Regions from separate parts of the Homo sapiens genome. Here region 2 is linked to region 1. The links come from fine-mapping of genetic effects on gene expression. A gene starts in region 1. The other region holds a variant in brackets. All regions are shown on one strand. Distances are from middle to middle. Region 1 holds the start of TSPAN32 (tetraspanin 32). Region 2 has its middle 46 kb from the start of ASCL2.

The links. PIP is the estimated chance that this variant, and not a neighbour inherited with it, causes the effect.
Region 2: its variant is fine-mapped to the expression of TSPAN32 in whole blood (INTERVAL, PIP 0.99).

Annotation. Positions count from the first base shown.
Region 1 is chr11:2,298,659-2,306,720 of GRCh38, forward strand. It overlaps TSPAN32 (tetraspanin 32), which reads left to right and starts at 3,355. Exons shown (of 10, transcript NM_139022.3): 1 at 3,355-3,557; 2 at 4,186-4,300; 3 at 5,449-5,546. The coding sequence starts at 3,492. C11orf21 (chromosome 11 open reading frame 21) reads right to left here and starts at 3,260. Exons shown (of 4, transcript NM_001329958.2): 1 at 3,098-3,260; 2 at 1,862-1,955; 3 at 770-1,049. The coding sequence starts at 3,150. The coding sequence ends at 798. RefSeq lists a silencer at 601-895 and an enhancer at 7,259-7,926.
Region 2 is chr11:2,216,348-2,233,075 of GRCh38, forward strand. No RefSeq gene overlaps it. Among named protein-coding and RNA genes, the nearest start is that of ASCL2, 46 kb to the right of the region's middle. RefSeq lists an enhancer at 7,016-7,590. The variant A/G (reference allele first, on the strand shown) is at 9,359.

The sequences.
Region 1 (8,062 bases):
CCAGGCTGGGGTGGCCCAGGCAGGACAGCAGGCTTGGTGGTGCCCGGCCCCACATACTAGTGGGTGGCACAGCGTGGATGTGGATAGAGACGCCTCCCCTACAGTCTGTCCCTGGTATCTGTGACGCAGGTGTGGGGTCCCTTTAGACTCCCCTGGGAGACAGCTGTGTCTATGAAGGGGCAGCCATCCCTGGGTCCCCTCTGCCCTCACTGAGGGCAGAGCCTAGGCTCCTTGGGGGGGGAAGCAGGGTGCCCCTCAGTGCCCACTGGAGTTGGCCAGCGGAGGCAGCAGCCCACGGCACTGAGAGGGAAGGCCCGGGCAGCCATGCCCCAGAAACTCCCTTGGTTGGGAGCAGAGCAGTGCCCAGAGCCCAGAACCCAGTTTGAGTATGGTCTTGGCTCTCAAGGGACAGGCCAGGGTGCCTCCAGGGGAAGGGGGCTGCCCAGGCAGTAGGGGTTCAAAGGTCCCCTGGGGCCCACCCAGCTGACCCAGGCCTAGGGTAATCCAGAAGGGGAGCTGCCCTCCTCCTCCCTGGGCTCAGGAGAGGCTGCAAAGGCAGCTCCTGGGACGTGGATTTCAGAATCAGGGCAAAGGACAGACATGAGCCAGATTCAGGTGCCCGCGTGGCCCCCACAGGTCTCTTCAAGCTCCAGGCCCCACTCGCTGTGACGCAGGTGGGAAGCTCTTGAGTGCCTCCCCGGTGGGAGGGGCCGCGCTCACAGACAGCACAGGGGCCCCCAGGCTCCAGCCTCAGAGCCCGGCTGCTCACCTCTGATGGACAGAAAAGGGTCCCTGTCTCAGGAAGGTAGAGGCTGCCACCTCCTGGCCCGAGGACACAGCTTTCCAGAGGAGGGGCCTGCTTCTAAGTCCAAGTCCCATCCCAGCCGGATAGCCAGGGGCAACTGCCCAGGTAAACTGAGACAGCAGCAGCAGGCAAGCCAGTGCAGAGCTGGGTGATCCACAGGTTCATGAGCGGTGGCAGGTGGAACAAGGGCACCATGGGCGGAGGGTTGGGCAGCTGCAGGTGGCATCATTGAGCCAGGGGCCTCCTGGTGGGTAAGGACATTGTAGAGTGAGCGGGCGCACCTGGGACCCAGGAATTCACAGGAAGGAGAGAGGAAAAAGGAAGTCCCTGGCGGGTAAACACATATGCATGCACACACATCCACGTCTGCACACGCATCCACGCCTGCACACGCATCCATGCCTGCACATGCATCCACGCCCAATCTCTTCCCTGGAAATAAAGCCAGGGGCCCTTAGGCCAGCTTGCAGTGGGGCCCAGCCCTTAGGACAGGCTCCTTGGTGGGGTAGGGGTGGGGGCAGCTGTCCTCCTGGGCCAGCTCCTTGGGGCTGAACCCGCTGCTCGAGGGGTCTTCCAGGCTCCCAGCGGCCGGCACCACCTCTAGAGCAGGTGGGCAGGGGTGTGTGGGGTGGGCAGGGGTTTGTGAGGGTGGGCAGGGGTGTGTGGGGTGGGCAGGGGTGTGTGGGGTGGGCAGGGGCATGTGGGGTGGGCAGGGGTGTGTGAGGTTGGGCAGGGGCGTGTGGGGTGGGCAGGGGTGTGTGAGGGTGGGCAGGGGTGTGTGGGGTGGGCAGGGGTGTGTAAGGTTGGGTAGGGGTGTGTGGGGTGGGCAGGGATGTGTGGGGTGGGCAGCGGTGTGCGGGGTGGGCAGGGGTGTGCGGGGTGGGCAGGAGGGTGTGGGGTGGGCAGCAGCCTGCACAGTGGCTTCCCCTCAACAAGCCACTTCCTCTTGCAGAGGGAATGTTGGGGTGGGAGGGTGTGGCTCAGCAAAGGGCGTGGGGGTTCCACCGGCTCCCTGCCCCCGCTGGTGGGGCACAGTGAGGGGGGCTGTGGTCAGACCTGGTCTCTGGAGGGCCAGCCGGGGGTTCCCGTCCACCTGTCAGGGGGTTCGACGCCACTTTGAGATGACAAGTGAGGCCACCTGGGCACAGCGCTGGTGTGAGAAGGAGGCCATCAGGACAGGTCAAGAACCCAGGCCCGCCCTGCTCCGAAATTCTTCAGACCTGATGAAGAGGTGTCCCAGAAGCGGGTGGTGCTCCAGGCCCGCCTCACCAGCTCCAGGGAGGTCAAGGTTGGAGAGAGACAATTCTAGGGGCGAACCAGACATAGCCAAGAGCAGCTCATCTTCCCTGGAGAGGACGGGCTGCCCACTTGCACAGCCCGGGGGCCTCCTGCCCCTAGACCTGGTACCTTCACTCTTGTTGCCACCCCTACATTCATACCTGCGCCCCAGTCTGAGCCACACCTAGGCCCCCAGCTGAAGTGACACTGTGGGTGCCAGGCATCTGAGGTCTCCACAAGCCCCCACAGACTCAGGGTGGGAATTCCTGGGGGCCAGAGCTGCAGAGGGTGCTGCCTGGGGGTGCTGGGCTGGACGGGGGTCCTGGTTGTCCCTCCTGGTTCTCCTGGTTCTCCCTCCGCAGAGGGAGGGAGGCGGTGGCCTCAGCAGTTCCTCCAGCAGCGTTCCTGAGCGGGCGGCAGCTGGGCCCTCTTCCCACAGCCACGCTGGGGTTGCCATGCCTGCAGGTCTTGGGGCCCCCTCCCCCTTGATGAGGTCCTGACCAAATGCAGGAGGAGCAATTCCAGCACCGAGGGGCGAGCAGAGCCGCCTGTTAGCACTCCTGGGAGGGCCCGGAGTGGTCCCTGAATGATGGATTCACCTGGAACATTTTCACCCTCTTCAGGCCCACCCTGCCCCAGAGGCCCACGGAAACCCTGCCTGTACTGGGGCCGCAGCGCTGCCCCCACCCATACGTAATTACACGGCTCGGTGTAATTGCAAATTCGAGGTTTACAAAGCCTCCCCCTGGAGGCCCCACGTGAGTGTGAGCGAGGCCCCAGCCCACCCCTGTGGCCCCAAGAAGGCTCTGCGACAAAATATCCATGAGTGCCGCCCACGAAGGCATTAAAACCAACGACCTTCTCAAAACTTAAGCTGTCACAGGACATTTCAAAGGGTGTTTCCTAAGAACACCTCAATAATGATGTTCCAAGGAGACCCCATCCAAATTCCTCCAAGGATTACGCCCCCAAGGCCCAGTCCACACTTGCTCACTCCCAGGACGGGGAGCTCACCTCCTCCTCCCCGGGCGCCGTCTCCTCCACATCCCACACCAGGTCCTGCCCATGACTTTCCCCCTCTCAGCGCCGTCCTCAGTGGCCACACCAAGAACGAGGCCATGTCTTCCTGGGAAGGGCCTCAGATGTCAGCAAATGCCCTGGTGTCTTGGGCTGGGCTGGGGGCACCAGGGTGAGGTGGTGGGGGGAGCCAACCTCACTGCCCCTCCCCTTCCTGCCTGCCCTTCTTCCGGGGCACCCAGCAGCTCGGTCCTAGGGCGATGTTGACAGACAGACAGAGGGGCGGATGCAGCCTACCTCCTGGGCAGTGAGCTGCGGTCTGAGGCCCCTGCCCAGCTGGAAACCACAGGGAGGGGAAGGGAGGGGAGGAGAGGAGAGGAGAGGAACCGTCATGGGGCCTTGGAGTCGAGTCAGGGTTGCCAAATGCCAGATGCTGGTCACCTGCTTCTTTATCTTGGTAACAGGCAGGTCGGGCAGGAGTGGGTGGTGGGTGGGGGTGAGCAGGGGTGAGGGGTGGCAGGGCCTCAGCACAGGGATTATCCCTCCCCTGACACACACACCAGCCCTACTGTCCCTGTCCTGCCCTTGCAGACATGTGTCCTGCCCTTGCAGACAGCCGCAGGCAGGCAGGGACCACCATGAGCAACCCCGTCTCTCCTCCTGAGGGGCAGCACAGAGCCTGGAGGAGGCCTGAGTGGGGCTGAGGCCTGGGGCGAGCTGGGGTGGAGGGGCACTGGCTGCCGGGCTCCAGGGATCTTCTCCCCTTCCTGCCCCGGAGGGTGCTGGCACAGGGGTGGGGCTCACTCCCACTCCGTAGACACAATGATCAGAGGTCCTGGGTGTCTGGGGAAGCTGGGCTGTGCGTGTATGCGTCTACCATGTGGGGGTGCCTGTGAGTGTGCTGGGGCGTCTGCAGTGAAGGCCTCCTGAGACCACTCCACGGAAACACCGGGAATCCCTGCAGCTGAGCCTGTCTCTCACGGGACCGGGAAGCTGGAGAGAGCCCCAACCCTGCCCGCTGGGGCCGAGCTCCCTGCTCCTGCAGCAGTCCCATGCCCCACACTCTGAGTCTGCCCTATCCACAGCTGCTGGGCCTCTCTGTGGCCACCATGGTGACTCTTACCTACTTCGGGGCCCACTTTGCTGTCATCCGCCGAGCGTCCCTGGAGAAGAACCCGTACCAGGCTGTGCACCAATGGGGTAAGTGAGGTCCAGGCCTGGCTGCATCGGGAGGGGCCTCGGGTGCAAGGGTGGCTGGCACGAGCCCAGCTGGACGCCTCACAGCCAGAATGGTGCCAGGCCCTAGGCAGGAGCCAGAGGTGGTCAGGGGCAGGGAGGGGCTGCCCTGGAGTCCTAGCTCCCCTGGGCAGGGCCTCGGGTCTGGGTGACAGCCAGTGTTCCTGCCTGGTTCTCGTGCCCCACAGGAGCGTGGGCACAGTGTGGGTATATGTCGGGCAGGGTCAGGAAGTGGCTCTGTGCGGTCAGGACCTGGCTCTGTGCAGTCAGGGCTCAGTCCCAGGCAGGCCTGGGACTGGCCTGGGGCTGGGCACAGCAGGTCCATGAGGGCTCCACATGGCTGATGTTCCACTCAGGACCTGGGATGTGGGTGGGGAGGGGGTGGGGGCTGCTCTAGCCAGACGCCTCCCTGCAGGGACTCAGCAGCGACTTATCCAACATCCAGAGAGCGGGAGCGAGGGCCAGAGCCTGCTGGGGCCACTCAGGGGTAAGGCTGAGGAAGGCCCCTTTAATGAGGGGATGTCAGAGCCAGATCTGCAGGGGACTCTCAGGCAGGAGCTCAGGGGGCCCAGGAAGGCTGCAGCCCGGTGGGCAGATGTAGGGAAACTGAGGCCCAGGAGGTCAGGGATACTGCCTTAGAACCCAATGCTTTTCCCCAAGTCCTAGGACCAGGGCCTCCCTGGAGGAGGACGCCTGGGGCCCAGGTCCAGGTCCGGACTGATAAGATTACAGCTCCAGTCCGGCCACTTGTCACTAGGACATGGCAGGAGGATGCCTGGGGCCCAGGTCCAGGTCCAGACTGATAAGATTACAGCTCCAGTCCGGCCACTTGTCACTAGGGCATGGCAGGGAGCATGTGGCTTCCAAGATAGCCCCACAGGCATGGAGGGCAGGGAGGAAAAGAGGGAAGGAGGGGCAGTCCCCCAGGCTGAACGAGTCCCACCTCCCTCCTCCTTCCCTCAGGGCCGTCTGATGGAGAGACAGGCCCATTCAGAGCCCCCCAGGAGTCCCTCACGGCCCCTGACTCCCAAGTTAGATTTCACACCCAGGCTGTGTGCACTCAGGACCTGTCCTGGGCACCCCTAACCCTCCTCCTCTCTCCTCCCAACCAGCCTTCTCTGCGGGGTTGAGCCTGGTGGGCCTCCTGACTCTGGGAGCCGTGCTGAGCGCTGCAGCCACCGTGAGGGAGGCCCAGGGCCTCATGGCAGGGGTGAGTTCATTGTGTTCCCAGATGCCCAGGCCCCCAGAAAAGAATTAGAAAGGAGTGAAGAGCTGGCAGGGCTGTGTGCCACCCCCACACCTGAGTGACCAGGCAGAACCAGAGGCCCCAGGGATGCTGGCCAGCCGAGACCCCCACGTCAACCCCACACCTGAGTATCTAGGCAGAAACAGAGGCCCCAGGGATGCTAGCCAGCCGAGACCCCCTACCTGGGTAGCCAAGGCCCCTCCACCAGGCCCTACCTCACCCTGTCATCTACACGCCCAACAAGGGTTCCTATAGGAGCTCTGAAAGAGAGAGACGGCCCTCCTGACCCTGGGAGCTGTTTCCAAAGTCCCTGGGAGGGTCTGGTTCTATTGCCCAGCAAGCTCTGGGAGGGCACTGGGAGCATCCCATTTCCTGTTCGGAGGAGGCCGGGCCAGGCTCAGGAAACGCCCCTTGAGCTCTCCAGCCTGGGCTCTCCGGAGCTGCACACTCTCCTTCCCAGCTGCCGGAGGTGTCTCCCCAGCCCCGAGGTCCCATAGGCCCCTCCACCCCACCCCATAGCAGTGGCCTCTTGTCACCCTCATTCCTACTCCTCCCCATGGGCTTCTGTCTTGGTCCCTGCCACTCGATGGTCATCGCAGACCCCACCTGGCGGCAGCCTCCCCACGCCTGTCCTGCCCCTGCTAGGCCCACAGCCCTCTTCTCTCACCCCAGCTGGGGCAGCTCCTCCCTGGCGCCCCGGGCTCCCACCTGTCCCTCTAGCCTCCCGTCTCCCCTTTCCAGCCATGAGGAGCTTGTGCTGGGGGCTTTGCTTCCCTGTTTAGCCTGTGAAGCTGGACCACTCTGGGGGTCCCTGAGGGCAGAGCCTCCTGGGTCCCCAGGGCTGGCAGGGTTTTCAGCTCAGCCTTCAAGTTCAGCAAATGCTTGTTTAATGACCCTGGTTTATAAATGTCTCCAAGAATAGGAATAGAGTCACCTCCTGGAGCTGCTGCCGGGCCAACCAGCCCTGGGTGGGCCCATGGTGGGCAGAGGAGGACCCAGCAGCTCCAGCACTAGCCAGGATTCCTGCTCCGGGGCACACGAGCATGGGCAGGGACAACCCCGGCCTGTGCTATCTGGCTTCAGGGCCAGGTGGGAGGCCCCAGTGGGGAGATGACAAGGCAGGTAGTCTGCCCCCCCCCCCAGAGGGTGTGTGGCCTGCAAAGGGACACCTGGATGGAAGAAAAGGTTGGCAACAGGGCCAGGCCAAGGGGTCCAGGTCAGAGCTGGAGGCCCAGAAAGAACCAGCGCTGGGGCTGCAGTACCGTCCACCAGGGGGTGCCATGGTGCTGGGCTTGAGGCCACATATGCAGAAGCCAGCCGCTGGGCCACGGGGCTCCTGTCCCAGTCACCAGCCTTTCCCACCCCACCTTGCCCCCGTGCACAAACCAGTCTAGCACCCTCATCTGTGGCCAAGGCGGTCAGGGAGCACCTGGGCTCAGGTTCTGTGTCCCCAGCCAGCCCCAAGGCCAGGGTGACTTGACATGTGGGTCAGGCCTGTAGAGCAGCCTTGGAGGCCCCCAACTGGATGCCTGCACTGGGCTGGGGTCCTGAGGACACTCCAGTCCCAGCTGGGTGGGCTCCAGCACAGCTCCCAAGCCCCAATGCACTTAGACCCAGCCTGGATGGTGAGCTCAGCATGGCCACAGCAGGGAGCTGGGAGACCCCAGTCAAGAGACCTGCTCCATTGAGCTGCATGCATGTGTGTGCATGAGGGTGAGCCTATGTGTATGCGTGTGCAAATATACATGTGTGTGTGCATGTGCATGAGTGTGTGTGTGCATGTGTGTGTGCGTGTGCAGGTGCCTCTGTGTGTGTGTGTGTGTGTGTGTGTAAGTATCTGTCACCGGTCTTCACCTGCCCCTGTTGCCATACGGGTGTGGTGTCTGCGTGTTGCATCTGGCACATCTGTATGTGTGTCTGCACGCATGAGCACAAGTGAAGGGGCTAGGGAAGGGGAGCAGGGAGTGGAAAGATTTTTTCCAATGGGCTGGGCGCCTGGATGCTCCCCACAAAGCCCCTTCCTGCCTGCCCCCACCCCTCCGGCCTCTCCCCTAGCTGGCCTCTCGCACAGGAAATGAAAGAGCTTGCTGGGCTGAGAGAGCAGAGCTGGCAGCGCCGCCCAAGGAAGCACATTCAATTCGCTTATGTATCTATTTATTTATTTCCATTTAGAATGAGGAGAAAGAAAATGGCCAGGGCAGACCTGACCACCCAGCAGCCTCTGATGGTGAAGGCCCTGGGGAGGTCTGGGTGGGCCCATCCACCACCCAAGATCCTCTCTGCGCGGGAGGTTGGTGGTGGGGGGAGAGAGAGAAAGAGAGAAAGAGAGAAAGAGAGAGAGAGGCCGTGGATGCTCTTTCTCCTGAGGAATGAAATGGTTTCTGGAAAATGCTGGTCTCCTGAGCTGGCTCAGGGCCTCAAGCCTGGGAGGCAGCATTGAGTGATAGCTTCCAGATGGGGATGGTGGCCCTCAGCCAGCA
Region 2 (16,728 bases), 78 kb before region 1:
CCGAGGGCCGCGCCCCACCTCTCAGGCCCCGCTCACAGCCAGGCCCCAGGGCTGCTCCCAGGCCCCTGGGAGAGCAGGGTGCCGTGGGCGGTCAGCAATGGGTGCAGGGTCTCCTGAGGTCAGGAGGGAGCTCAGAGCTGCTTCTTCCCTTCTCCTTTCTCAGCTGCCTATCACCCCACCCTCTAAACAGCAGGGAGCCCGGCATAGACACACTTGTGGCTACCCCACCCTCACACCCTCAGAAATCCTCAGGGAGACAGGTCGTACACCGCCCATCCTTGCAATGGGCTCCCTGCCCCCTTTCTCCTGGAGGGCACCAGGCACACACAGGTACACACACAAACACGCAAGGCACACACACAGACACGCACAGACATGCACAGCCACACACAGATAAACACAAACACACACAGCTATGCACAGCACACACAGCCACACAGCCACAAAGACACACACAGACACACAGCCACAAAGACACACACGGACACGCACAGACACACAGCCACACAGACACACACAGACACACAGACACACAGAGACTTGCACAGCCACACACAGATAAACACAAATATACACAGCCATGCACAGCACACACAGCCACACATGGGCACACAAAGGTACACACAGACACACACAGCCACACATGGGCACACATAGCCATACCCAGATAAACACAAATACACACAGCCACACACAGTACACATAGCCACACAGACATGAACAGACAAAACACAGACACACAGAGCCACACACAGATAAACACAAATACACACCATCATGCACAAACAACAGGGACGCACAGCCACACACGGACACACACAGGTATGCTCAGACACATGCAGGTGCACAGAGACGTATGGGCACACACAGACACACAAAACAGGGGCACACACAGGCACGCAGAGACGTGCCCATCCTCTCACAGCCACACGTACCCACAGCCACAGCCACACCCATGGGCACCCAGCAACACCCGCCCTCCCAGCACAGCTGCCTGCCCACAGGGACACCACTACCAACGCCCAGCACCGACACCCTGGCACCAACGCCCAAAAAACGTCCTCAGCGGTGCCCACCCAGGCCGGCAGGCTCAGACAGACACCGCTGCTGCAGCGAGTGTGCCTGGAGTCCCACCTGCTGGGACAAGGAGACCTACAGGTGTGGATGCTGCCCGCTGCCTGCTGTAGGGGGCCAGGACCTCTGAGCCTGGCTGAGCTGGGCACCCCCGTCCCATGCCCAGGGGGTGCTGCAGGACTGTGGCCAGGCCAAGCCTTCCCAAGGCACCTCTTGGGGCCAGAGCAGCTTCCCAGGACAGCCCCCATGCCTGGCAGGCTCTCTGTGGGCTCCCCCTGTTCCAACGCCCTGTGGACCCAGCCTTGGAAGCTTCACAATGCCCGGTGCGAGGAGGACACGTGGTAATGAGAAAGGTGCCTGGAGCTGTCCAGCCTGCAGCATGCTGCCAGCGCCTCACTGGGTCCTCATGCCCTGTGCCCACTGGGTCCCTATACCAGCCTCTGCTCCGCCTGGCCCTTACACCCTCGGCTCCACCTGACTCCTACACTGGCTCTGCAACCATTCCCAGCCACAGAGGTTGGCTGCAAGTACTCACAGCTGCCCCTCCTCAGTGACTCGTTCTCAGGCAAACAGGAGGCTATGCCCCAGCCCAGGGGCAGCCCACGCTAGGAGTGACCACCCAGGAATATGAAACCCAGTCCCCTTACCTCAAAGCCCAGCCTACTATAGTACAATTTATGCCCCAGAGCTCCCTGAGGCTGTCTGCTGCCGAGACCCCCTCTTGCTTGCCTGTGTTCTCAGCCTCTTCTCTTCCTGGGAGGGCACCCCTCCCCCAACAAATCCCATGCATGAGAAACCCCACTGCAGATTCTTCTTCAGGGGAACAGGCCTGAGACAGTTGGTGCCAGGCATGGCACTGGGAAGCTGAGCCCAGGTGTGGGCTCTGTGATCAGCTCTCTCACTGACCAGGGCAAGGAGGAGCCCCTCATGGGGGTGAGCAGGGGAGGAGTGGATAGAGCCCCTGGCAGGCTAGAGCAGAACACTGTGGGATCACAGACCACCTGGTGCCATGTCCCCAGCACTTGAGAACTATGGGGAAACCTTAAGCAAAGAGCTGTGGAACGGGCAGCTTTTGCTGAGAGCCATGAAGGTCCTGAAGGAAGAAAACCCCAAGTTCAGATCTATAAATTCACAATCCAAGATCCAGTGTGAGAGTCCTAACGAGGTCATGGGTGTGGGCTTTTGTCTTACTCTGTTTGTGTTGCTATAAAGGAATACCTGAGACTGGGTAATTGATAAAGAAATGAGATTTATTTGGCTCATGGTTCTGCAGGCTGTACAGGAAGCATGGCACCTGCATCTGCTGCTGGGGGGGGCCTCAGCCTGCATCCACTCATGGCGGGAGGGTGAGAGCCGGTGTGCAGAGACCACATGGTGAGAGAGGAACCAAGAGAGAGGGAAGGTGCTGGGCTCTTCTTAACAATCAGTGCTCATGGGAACTCAAAGTAAGAACTTAGTTCTCACCCTCCTCCAGGGAGGGCATTAATCCACTCATGAGGAATCCATCCTCATGACCCCAACGGCTCACATCAGGCCCCCACCTCCAACACTGGGCATCAAATTTCAACATGAGGTTGGGGGACAAACATCCAAACTATAGCATTCCTCCCCAGTCCCCCCAAATTTATGTCCTTCTCACATGCAAAATACAATCATCCCATCTCAGGAGTCCCCTAAAGTTTTAGCTTCTTCCTGCATCCATTTAAAAGTCCAAAGTGCAAAGTCTCATCTAAGACTCAAGGCAAGTTTCTTTCAGGTATGAGCCTGTAAAATCAAAATCAAGTCATTTACTTCCAAGGTACAATGGTGGGACAGACATTGGGTAAACATTCCCATTCCAAAAGGAAGAAATTGACCAAAAGAAAGGCAGGACAGGTCCCACACAAGCTTGAAACCCAGCAGAACAGACATTAAATCTTAAAGCTCCCAAATCTCTTTTGACTCCATGTCCCACATCCCACGCTGGAAGGAAGGGTGGGCTCCCAGGACTCTGGACAGCCCTGCCCCCATGGCTTTGCTGAGCCCAGCCCACGTGGCTACTCTCACAGGTTGGAGTCCAATGCCTGGGGCTTTTCCAGGCTGCGATTGCACACTGCTGGTGTCTCTGTAATTCTGGGGTCCCCCTGGCAGCCCCATTCCCACAGCTCCAGTAGAAGAATATCTCCGAAGGGCTCTATCCCTGCAGCAGGGTTCTGCCTGGGCACCCAGGCTTTCCAATACACCCTTTGAAATCTAAATGGAAGTGGCCAAACCTCCAGCACTTTTGCATTCTGGATTCCTGCAGACTTAACAATACATGGAAGCCAGCAAGTCCCATGCCTCGTGCTCTGCAGGGCAGCTGTCCAAGCGGTATCTGAGGCCATTGGGACCATGGCTGGATCTGGGGTGGCTGGGATGTGGGAAGCAGCATCCCAAGGTGGTCCACAGCAGTGGCACCCTGGACCTGACCCTCCAAGCCACTCTGTTCTGCTAGGCCTCTGGGCCTGTGATGGGCAGGGTGGCCTCAAAGTCCTTCAAAATACCTTCAGGGCCCTTTCCCCATTGTTTTGACTGTTAGCATTATACCCTCTTTCAGTCATGCCAACCCCTCTAGCAACCGGTGTCACAAAGGACCTTGAATTCCTCTCCTGAAAACATTCTTTGCTTCTCTACCACAGGCCAGGCTGAAAATTGTCTAAATTTGTATGCTCTACTTCCCTTTTTATTAGAAATTCTACCTTTAGATCATTCCTTTGCTGTTGTAGTGATTGTAAGTTGTTAAAAGTAGCCATGGTACTTCTGGAACACTCTGCTGCTTAGAAATTTCTTCCACTAAACATTCTGGGTCATCACTCTTAAGGTTAGCCTTCTACAAAGCCTTAAAGCACGGACACAATGCAGTTGCAACCTTTGCTAGGGGTTAACAAGGGTGATCTTCGCTCCAGTCCCCAGTAAGTTCCTCATTTCTATCAGAGACCTCATCAGCATGGCCTCTATTGCCTGCATGTCTATCAGCATTTTAGTCACAACCACTTAACTAGTCTCCAAGAAGTTTAAAACTTTCCCTCATCTTCTTGTCTTCTTCTGAGCCCTCCAAACTCATTCAACCTCTGCCCATTACTCAGTTCCAAAGCCACTTCCACATTTTCAGGTATCTTTATAGCAACACCCCACTCTCAGTACCAATTTTCTCAGTCCACTTGTGTTACTATAAAAGCACACCTGAGACTGGGTAATTTATAAAGAAAAGAGGTTTATTTGGTTCATGGTTCTGCAGGCTGTACAGGAAGCACGGGGCCTGCATCTGCTGCTGGTGAGGGCCTCAGGCTGCTTCCACTCATGGTGGAGGTGAGGGGGAGCCAGTGTGTGCAGAGACCGTATGGCAAGAGAGCAAGCCAGAGAGATGGGAGGGAGGTGCTAGCCTCTTTTTAACAACCTGCTCTTGAGGGAACTAATAAAGTGAGACCTCATTTGCCCCGCTCTACCAGGGAGGGCATTAACCTGTTCATGAGGGATCTACTCCCATGACCCAAACACCTCCCATTAGGCCTCCACTTTCAACATTGGATCAAATTTCCACATGAGGTTTGGAGTGGACAAACATCCAAATTCTAGCAGCTTTAATCCAACCTGACTGATATACTTGTGAGAAGAGGAGATTAGAACCCAGACACACACAGGGGGAGGACCCTGTGAGGACACAGCTAGAAGGCAGCCATCTGCCAGCCAAGGGGAGAAGCCTCAGGAGGAACCAGCCCTGTGACACCTTGATCTTGGATTCCAGCCTTCAGGACTGAGGAGGATAAACTTCTGGTTATTAAGTCCCCCAGTCTATGGTACTTAGTTATGGCAGCCACAGAAAGTGAATTCGGGCAGCAAAGAGGAAATGGCACCAGTTGGCCTTACCCACAGGGGTCTTTGAGAAGGATAATAGAGCATGATGCTCCTAGAGGGGACAGGTGGGCAACCAACCAGGTGACCCTTTAATATAGAAACAAGGGATCAAGACTGGATGCCTGAGGCTGAGATCATTCTCTCAAATGCAATCCTGACCCCTTGACCATTTCCAGACCTCAGCCAGTTCTCAGACCCAGACTCACCAATGGAAAGAGAAGCTGGGTCCCCATGAGGCAGGACCCTGAAACAGCATACCAAATGCAACCTGTGGTATGTCCTCAGTCCTTTCCCCAAGGGACCTACAGCCACTGAATCAGATCATCACAGCTGATAACTGAGGGACACAACTATCTTTGCAGGGCTGTTGCATATGGAGTCTGCATAACACTCATAACACTGGTACTAGGGGACCCAAGTGCCATCATGGGCCCCCCATTAAAGAAGCAGCATAGGGGAGTTAGATAATAAGTGGAAATCTGGCCCAGGTCTATCTCATGGGGTGGGCTATGTTCATGAACCCATTTGAAGATTACGCCCCCAGTTCCTACACAAATAATCAACATGGACCCATAAGCAGGCAGACTCCTTCATCAGCTCCTTGACCTTTGTGGTAAGACCTATTATGGCAGGAAAGAACAAGTAGAAGTCCCTGAACCTGCCTTTACTCCAAAGCCAGAAAATAAGTCAAAACTGATGACACTCTCCAAGGCTTTTCACCCACTTCTGGCAAAGACGAAGTAACAGGAACTGGGTTTCCCCTCTCAGCTGAAATAATAAGCAAAAAGATTGAAGAAGAAAAAAAAAAAGAAACACTGGTTTTCAAGAAAGGATATTGGGCAAAGAAGGACAGTGATCCCCAAGAGAAGAAAAACAAAGTGAGCCCTACAATTGCCTTGTCTTGCTGCCCTGAGAGAGTTTTTGGACTGCAATACAGGGAGGAAAATTGAGGCAGAGCCCAATGAATCCAAGTTGAGGTAACAGAATTGGGGGTTTGGGGAGACCAAGGTGGCTAGAGTTTGCAGGGCAGAGAAGAGAGTGGTACAAAGAGTGAACCCTGGAGATCTCCAGAAGGTTCCCCCTAAAATATTCAGCAGGATACATTCATCACAGGCCTGGGAGGGAATGACCCAAGCCTGGAAGGACCAACTGAAAGGGTTCGGGGCTGCAAGACCCAGTACCTATGCAGAACTGGGAGAAGAACCAGTTCCCACCAGCCAGACTGGAAAATGTCATGATTCACAGGGCATTGGGTAGTGTACCAATAAAAGGGTCTTGCCCCAGCAGTGGGGAATAATTAGCCCTGGATGGAGTAATGTCCCAGGCCTGCCTGACAAGCCATAAAAGCAAGATATGAAAGGAACAAGTTGTTCCAAAGTATCTTAACTGCATCCCAGAACAAAGCTCAGCCGTGTTCATAGGAATGCAGACGTATCCAGTATCCAACACGGCAAAATTCACAACATCTGCAACCAATAAAAAATTGTGGGATCTGCAAGGAAGCAAGAAAATACACCCATAATGGGGAGAAAAATCAACCCATTGTAACAAACCCAGAACAGACATGAATGTTAGAATTGGCAGGCAAGGACATTAAAACAGTTATTGTAACTGCATTCCCTATGTACAAAGAGCTAAACAGAGATGTGGAGAGATGTGAAAAATGTAAGAATGAACCAAATTGAGCTGTCAGTATGAACACAGCAATGTCTGAGATAAAAAATACACTGGATGAGATTACTTAAAGATATACCAATAGAAAATATTCCAAATGAAATGAAAAAACAAGAATTGTTTTAAAATGATAAGAGTATCATTGAGCTATGGGACAATTTCAGGTGGCCTAGTATACAAGTAATTAGAGGGCCTGAAGGAAAGAATAGGGAGGGACAAAAACATTCTGAAAAAAGAATGGATTTTTATTTTCACCCTCAACATGTAAAGAGCTCCCATCCTTCCACCGGAAAAAGCAGAACAACCTGAAAATCACTAACTTTCTCAGACCCATCAGAGACTTGAGATTGTAGAGCAAATCACTCTCCTGAAATCAGGGAAATGGGGAAGTCCAGAGAGTTGTGGCCAAGACTGGCTTACTGGAGTAGAAGCCACGGGAGACACAAACAGACACAGATGTTTAAATGGTAGTTCTGATCAACTGCTGAGACAGGCTACCCTGAGAGTAAGAGATCCTGGGGGTGTGCAGTCTTGGGGGCTCCACGCTTTCATGGACTTTACCTCCAGGAACCAGTTTCTCACTGTGAAGAGCGCAGAAGAGCCTGGTAGGAGGCAGGTAGGGGGCAGGGGTGAAGAGTAATTGTGGAGCAATTTCCATAACAAAGTACTACTCTTCTGGGGAAAGATGTTTCCAGAGCCTTATCCCACCTGGGTGAAGGGCATTTCCCCAACTCCAGCCCCTTCTAGCTCTCCTGTCACTCCCAAGTTGCAAAAGCTATGACACTGGGAAATACTTGTGAAGGTTTCAGCCCGAGGCACAGGCTCACTGTAAGGCATTTAATTGGGAGAATATAGAACACTATTCTCCCCCTCATACCTGACTCCCTGTCAGAATAACATAAACCCTCACAGTAGAGGGCTCTTTACCTCAGTTTCTATTACCTGATAAACAAAAAATTTACAAGGCACACCAAAGGATAAGAAAAGGCACAGCTTCAAAAGACAAAACAAGTGACAGAACCAGACTGAGATATGACACAGATGTCAGAATTATCACATAGATAATTTAATATAACTATGATTAACATGCTAAGAGCTCTAATGAAAAAAATCGACAAAATGCTAAGAAAAGATGGGTAATCGAGCGGAGATATGATAATCCTGGGAAAGAATCAAAAGGAAATGCTAGAAATAAAAAACATTTTAGCAGAAACAGGGACCGCCTTCAATGGGATTATCAATAGGCTAAGCAAGTCTAAGGAAAGAATTGAGGAGCTTGAAGACAGATCAACAGACACTTTCCAAACTGAAATGCAAAGGAAAAAAGAGGAATTGAAAAAAACAAAACAAAACCAGAACAGAGCAACCAAAAACTGAGGGAAATTTAAAAAATGTAACATACTTGTAGTTGGAATACCAGAAAGAGAAGAAAAAAGGAATGGAGCAGAAGAGATGTTTGCAGTTATAATGGCTTAGAACTTGGCAAAATTAATGATAGACATCAAACCACAGATCCAGGAAGCTCAGAGAACACCAAGCAGAATTTTTTAAACATTAAAAAACCCTCAACTACACATAGACATATTATATTTAATCTGAGAAGACCTAAGACAACAAGAATTCTTGAAAGACACAAAAGGAAAAATACCGCATTACCTAGAGAGAAATATGGATAAGAATTACAATGACCTCTTGTCCGAAAACTGCAAGCAAGAAGACAATCAGATGAAATAATTAAAGTGTTGAAAGACATATACTACCAACCTAGAATTCTATATCCAGTTTTATATATATGTGTGTGTGTGTATATACATACATGTATGTATATGCACATATATGTATATATACACATGTGTATATGTGTGTGTATGTGTGCATATATATTTACATATAATTTTTAAATTATATAAAAATGATTTTTAAAGCCCTGAGAGGAACAAGGGCCACAAGTATGTTCAAAGTGTTGATGATACATGTGTCCTGCAATTCACATTAATTCTCACAGCTCTTAGGCTATCATTAAAAAAAATTTTTTTTCAGCATCAGTCTCACTCTGTTGCCCAGGCTGGAGTGCAGTGGTGTGATCATAGCTCACTGCAGCCTTGACCTCCTGGACTTTGAAATCCTCCTGCTTCAGCCTCCCAAGTAGCTAGGACTATAGATGTGCTGCACCACACCTGACAATGTTTTTATTTTTTATTTCTGTAGAGATGAGGTCTCACTATGTTGCCCTGGCTAGTCTTGAACTCTGGGGATGAAGTGATCCTCCTGCCTCTGCCTCCCAAAGTGCTGGGATTATGGGTGTTAGCCATTGCACCCAGCCTATATACAGTGATAGGCTGGGTGAAGAGAAAGTAAAGACTTTTGCAGACAAACAAAAATGGAAGGAATTTATCACCAGATCTGCCCTACAAGAAATGCTGGGATTACAGGTGTGAGCCACCACACCCGAATGAAATGTTAAGATTCTTTTTTAGACAGAGGAAAATTATAGGTCAGAAACTTGAATCTGCATAAAGAGAAAAGGAGCATCAGAGAAGGAATAAATGAAGGTAAAAGTAAGATCTTTTCTTATTCTAAATCAATGTAATGATAACTATTTGTTTCAAATAATATTAGTAAGAATGCATTGGGTTATTACAGCATATGGGTAAGTAAAATAAATGACAAGCATTATAAGGGATGGGAGGAGGAATCGGGACTTTATATAGTTTGGTATTTGTTCCCTCCAAATTTC[A/G]TGTTGAAATGTGATCCTCAATGTTGGAAGTTGGGCCCAGTGATAGGTGTTTTGGTCATGGGAGTGGATCCCTCATCAATGGCTTGGTGCCCTCTCTGCAGCAGTAAGTTTATGTGAAAGCTGTTTATTTAAAAGGGTCTGGCACCTCTCTTGCTTCCTCTCTTGCCATGTGACATGCCTGCTCCCTCTTTGCCTTCTGCCAAGGGTAAAACCTTCCTGAGGCCTCACCAGAAGCAGATGATGACATCATGCTTCTTATACAGCCTGCAGAACTATTAAACCTCTTTACTTTATCAATTACCCAGTTTCAGGCATTCCTTTATAGCAATGCCAAATGGACTAACACAGGACTTATCTGTGCTACTAATGAAGTGAAATGGTGTTATTTGGAGATGGACTTAGGTAAATTTAAAATGTATATTGTAAATGCTAAGGTAATCACTGTTTATCTGTTTATCAACAGAATAAACAGAAAACCTACAGAATGGGGGAGATATTCTCAAACTATGTATCTGACAAAAGTCTAATGTCCAGAATCTATAAGGAACTTAAACAATTTGATGAGTGAAAAACAAATAACCCCATTAAAAAATGGGCAAAATTGGCTGGGCGCGGTGGCTCATGCCTGTAATCCTAGCATGAGGATTTGGGAGGCCGAGGTGGGCAGATCACGAGGTCAGCAGATCGAGACCATCCTGGCTAACACGGTGAAACCCCATCTCTACTAAAAATACAAAAAATTAGCCGGGCATGGTGGCAGGCGCCTGTAGTCCCAGCTACTCAGGAGGCTGAGGCAGGAGAATGGCATGAACCCGGGAGGCGGAGCTTGCCGTGAGCGGAGATTGCACCACTGCAGTCCAGCCTGGGCAACAGAGTAAGACTCCGTCTCAAAAAAAAAAAAAAATGGGCAAAATTCAATAACAAATACATCTCAAAAGAAGACATACAAATGGCCAAGAAACATGAAAAAATGCTCACCATCACTAATTACCAGAGAAATGTAAATCAAAACCATAATAAGATACCATCTCACATCAGTCAGAATGGCTATTATTAAAAAGTCAAAAAATAACAGATAACGGCAAGGCTGCAAAGAAAAGGAACACTTATATACTGTTGATCAAAATGTAAATTAGTTCAGCCACTGTGGAAAGCAGTTTGAAGATTTCTTAAATAACTTAAAACAGAACTACCATCCCAGGCAACAGTCCCATTACTGGTTATATACCCAAAGAAAAACTAATCATTCTACCAAAAAGTCACACGCATTCATATGTTCACTGTAGCATGATTCACAATAGCAAAGACATGGAATCAACCTAAGTGCCCATCAAGGGTAGATTAGATAAAGAAAATGCGGTACATATACACTATGGAATACTACACAGCCATAAAAAAGAACAAAATCATGTCCTTTGCAGCATGGATGCAGCTGGAGGCCATTATCCTAAGTGAATTAACAGAAAACCAAATACTGCATGTTCTCACTTATAAGTGGGAGCTACGCATTGGATACACATGGACATAAAGATGGGAACAACAGACACTGAGGACTACCCAAGAAAGGAGAGAAGGAAGGGGGCAAGGCCTTAAAAACTACCTATTGGATATTATGCTCGCTACATAGGTGATGAGACCATTTGAACCTCAGGTTCATGCAACATACCCATGTAACAAACCTGCACAGGCAACCCCTAAATCCAAAATAAAATTGAAATTATATTAAAAAGTCACTATATAATGATAAAGGAACCAGACTTCCAAGAAGATACAACAATCCTTAATGTGTATGTACCTAACAACAGAGCACCAATACACATGCAGCAAAAGCTGATAGACCTGCAAGGAGAAATAGACAAATTTACTGTTACAGCTGGAGACTTCAAGACCCTACGGCCAGTAACTGATAGGTCAAGAAGACAGAAAATAGACAAGGATAAAGTTGACCTGAACAGCAGTTATAGCCCAACTTGATCTAATTCACATTTTAGACTACCTCATCCAACAACAGAATAATACACATTAATCTCTAGCTCATGTGGAACATTCATCGTGATAGACCACATTCTAGAATAAAACATACTTTAATTGAAAATAATAGAAATTATATAAAGTGTTCCCAGACCATAGTGGAATTAAACTAGAAATAAAAAACAAAAAGCTGGCAGGAAAATCCTCAAATATTTAGAAATCAAGCAATACACCTCTAAATAATCCAAGCTGAAAAGAAGTCTCAAGAGAAATTTAAAAAATATTTTTAACTAAATGAAAATGAAAATACAGTATATCAAAATTTGTAGGACTCAGCAAAAGCAATGCTGAATATAGCATTAACTGACTATAATTAGAAAGGCAATCAGTAACCTAAGCTCCCACCTTAGGCCTAAAACAAGCAGAAGAAAAATTTAATAAAAATTAGAGGATAAATGAATGAAATTCAAAACAGAAAAAAATCAACAGAAATAACAGCTGGTGCTTTGAAAATATTAATAAAATTCATAAACCTCTAGCTAGGTTAGGCAAGAAAAAAAGAAAAGACACAAATAATCAATATCAGAAATGAAAAAGTATCATCACTGTTAATCCCATGGACTGTGAAAGCATAATAAAGAAATTCTATAATTAACTCTATACCCACACATTTCACATGGATGAAATAGACCAATTTCTGGAAAGACACAAATTACCAAAACTTACACAAGGTGAAATAAATAACCTGGATATCCCTGTATCTATTAAAGAAATTGAATTAATTGAATTAATAATAGTAGCCTTCCTAAAAAGAAATTACCAGGCCCAAATGGTTTTAGCAGTGAATTCTATTAAAAATTTAAGGAAGAAGTCATACCAAATTCTCCACCAAAAAATCTCTTCCAAAAAATCAAGGTGACAGACACACTTTCTAACTCATTCTATGACGACAGCATTACTGTAATAACAAAACTCAGGTAAAGATATTATGGGAAAGGAAAACTATAGACCAATATCTCTCATGAATATAAATGCAAAGACCTTCTTAAAATTAGCAAAGTGAATCGAATAATAAATAAAAAGAATTATGAAGTACAATCCAAATGGGATTTATTCTAGATATGCAAGATGGGTTCAGCATTCAAAAAGCAATCTCTGTAATCCACACATCAACAGACTAAAGAAAACAATATATAACCATATCAAATGAAGCAGAAAATTTATTTAACATTTTTCTCTCTTTGGCTTCTTTCTGCTCTTTCTCTTCTTCCCCTTCCCTGTCTTCCTCTTCTCCACTACTCCTCTACTACTCCTCTTCTCCTCTACTCCACTTTTCTGAAGGGGGAAGACATTAGCTCTCCAAGTATGTAAGAAGTGGCTGCAGCCACCATAGGTATATCCAGTTTCTGTGACAAGATTTTAGTGATCTTGTCCAAAGTATCTTATGACCAACAGCTGGAGTTAAAAAGAGTGAAGTCAGTAAGATGGCAGAATAGGAGATTTCCACCATCATCCCTCCACAAAAGCATTGATGTTTCAACTACCTATAGATGACAGTATCTTTGTGGAAGTCCAGGAGTCCAGTGGAGAAGTTCTAGCACAGTTATAGCAAAAAATCTAATAATAAATGCATTGAAGAGGGTAAAAGAACCGTTTGACTTTATCCACATCACCCCTTTTTCAAGGCAGCATAGCTCAATGCCAAAATAAATCTATTAGGTCCATGACCTTTCCACAGAGGAAAGTGAGTGAGCACCAGGCTCCCCCAGCCATATGGCAAACTGCCCAAGAGGCCCACTGTTTCTCACCCCACTGAGAACACTGAGGTGGTCGGCACAGCTAAGTGGTTGCAAGAAACTGAGAGAAGGTGAGAAAGGCCATAGACCCTACTAATTTATCTGCAGACTTCATCATAAACATATAATGTGGGGAAGGAAGAGGAGTGAAGTAGTTTTTGTATGGGACTTAAGCTATTATCAGCTTAAAATAGACTGTTATATGATGTTTAATGCAATTCTCCTGGTAACCACAAATCAAAAACCTATAGTAGGTACACAAAATCAAAACATACAATTACAGAAAATCATCAGATCACGAAGAAAGACAATAAGAAAGGAAGAAAGCGACAAAGGGTGTATAAAATATCCAGAAAACAATGAACAAAACAGCAATAGTAAGTCTTTACCTATTAATAATTACTTTAAATGTAAATGGATCAAATTCTACAATCAAAAGACACAGAATAGCCAAAGTGTGGTGCACTCCTGTAGTCCCAGCTACTGAGGAGGCTAAGGCAGGAGGATTACTGAGCCCAAGAGTTCAAGTCCAGTTTGGGAAACATAGTGAGATCTCATCTTTTAAATTAAAAAACAAAACACAATGGCTGAATGCATTTAAAAAGCATGACCCAAGTATATGCTGCCTACATGAGATTCACTTCAACTTTGAGGATACACATAGACTGAAAGTGATGGGAAGAAAAATGATAGTTCATACAAATGGAAACCAAAAGAGAGCAGGGGTAGCTGTACTTATATCAGACAAAATAGACTTTATATCAAAAACTAACAAGAGAAAAAGATTATTACATAATGATAAAGTGATCAATTTACCAAGAGAATATAACAATATTCAACATATATGCACCCAACATTGAAGCACCTAAATATATAACTAACTAAAGGGAGAAATAGACAGCAATGCAATGATAATAATAGAAGACCTCAACACCCCACTTTCAACAATGGATAGATCACCCAGACAGAAAAATCAATATGGAAACAAGCACTGGACTTGAACTACACTTTAGACCAATGGACCTAACAGACATACACAGAACATTCCATTCAACAGCAGCAGAATATACATTCTTCTCAAGTATTCACAGAATATTCTCTAGGATAGATCATATGTTAGGCCACAAAACAAGTTTTACCAAATTTAAAATGACTGAAATTATATCAAGCGTCTTTTCCAACCATTTCCAATTTCTAGTTTGGTATCAAACTAGAAATCAATAACAGAAAAAAACAGAAAAATCCACAAATATATGTAAATTAAACAACACACACCTGAACAACCAATGGGTCAAAGAAGAAATCAAAAGGGACACCAAAAATATCTCAGACAAATGAAAATGGAAACACAACATACCAAAATGTATGTGATACCACAAAAGCAGTTCTAAGAGAGAACTTTATAGTGATAAACGCCTGCATGAAGAAAAAGGAAAGATCTCAAATAAGCAGCTTAACTTTATACCTCAAAGAACTAGAAAAAGAAGAGCAAGCTAAGCTGAAAGTTAGCAGAAGGAAGAAAATAACAACAAGCAGAGGTGGAAAAGATTAATGAAATTAAGAGTTGTTTTTTGAAAAGATAACCAAAATTGATAAACATTTAGCTAGATGAAGAAAAAAAGAGATAAGCTAAAATAAATAAAAATGAAAAAGGAGACATTCAACTGATACTACAGAAATACAAAGGATCATAATAGACCACTATGAGCAATTATATGTTAACAAACTGGATAATCTAGAAGAAACAGATATATTCCTATAAGCATAAAATTAACTAAGAATGCATCATAAAAAAATAGAAAATCTGAACAGACCAAGTAAGGAGATTGAATAACTAATCAAAATCACATATCAAAGAAAAGCCCAGGACCTCACGGCTTCACTAGTAAATTCTACCAAACGTTTTGAGAAGAACTAATAACAACTGTTCTCAAACTCTTCCAAAAAACTAAATTTTTGGAATACTTCCAAATTCATATTATAAAACAAGTATTACTCTGATGTGAAAGACAAGGACACTACAAGAAAAGAATACAAACCAATATCCCTGATAAACATAAATGCAAAAATCCTCAACAGAATACTAGCAGCAAACCAAATTCAAAAGCATATTAGAAGAGTGACACGCCAAGATCAAATGGGATTTATCCCTCAGACGCAAAGATAGTTCAACATAAGCAACTCAAAAAAGTGATACATCACATTAACAGAATAAAACATAAAAATTATATGATTATCTCAATAGATACAGAAAAATCATTTGTCAAAATTCAATACCATTTCATGATAAAAAAGTATCAATAAATTTGGTATAGAAGGAATGTACCTCAACACAATAAAGGTCATATATGACATCTCACCTCTAACAACATACTCAAAAATAAAAAGTGAAAAGCTTTCTCCCTAAGATCAGGAACAACAAAAAGGATGTCCACTTTTGCCAGTTCTGTTATACATAATACTGGAAGTCCTAGCCAGAGAAATTAGGTAAGAAAAAAAAGCAAAAAAAAGAAAGCATCCAAATCAGAAAAGAAGAAGTAAAATTATCTCTGTTTGCCAATGACATGATTACATACATAGAAAACCCTAATGACTCCATGAAAAAAAGTTAGAACTAATCAATTTAGTAAATTTTTAGGACACAAAATCAATATACAAAAATTGGTTGCATATTGATGTACTAACAATGAACTATCCAAAAAAGAAATTAAGAAAACAATTTACTTACAATAGCATCAAAAAGGATAAAATACTGAGGAATAAATTTAATCAAGGAAGTGAAAGATATGTACACTGAAAACTAAAACTTGGATGAAAGAAATTGATGAAAACAAACAAATGGAAGGATGTCCTGTGTTCACAGATCAGAGGAATTAATGTTGTCAAAATTTCCACACTACCCAAAGTGATCTAAAAGTCAATGCGAACTCTATCAAAATTGCAGTGGCATTTTGCACAGAAACAGAAAAAGCAATGCTAAAATTTTTACAGAACCATGAAAGACCCCAAATAGCTAAAGCAATGTTGAGCAAGTGGACCGAAGTGGAGGCATCACACTTCCTGATTCACCAGGACTCAAAGTCCTGGCTATTTCAATAAGACAAGAGAGTGAAATAAAAGGTATATAGATTGGAAAGAGAGAAATAAAACTGTTTATATTTGCAGATGCCATGATTTTACATCTAGAGAATCTCTAAGAAATCAACAAAATACTCCTGGAACTAAAAAGCAACTATGGCAAGGACCCAGGATACACATTAATACACCAAAGTCTATCACTTTCCTATATACTAGCAATGAGCAACTGAAGTCTGAAATGATAAAAAAAAAAAGATACCATTTACAATAGAACCCCCAAAAACATAATTCTTAAGAATAAATTTAACAAAATATATATAACACCTTGTAAAGGTTAATTTTGGTTGTCAACTTGAAGGGATACCCAGATAACTGGTAAAGCATTATCTATGGGTGTCCCTGTGAGGGCATTTCCAGAAGAGATTGGCGTTTGAATCCGTGGACTGAATAAGGAAGATCTATCTTCACCTGATGTGGGTGGGCACTATCTAATTGTCTGAGGGCCCAGATAGAGCAGAAAGGTCA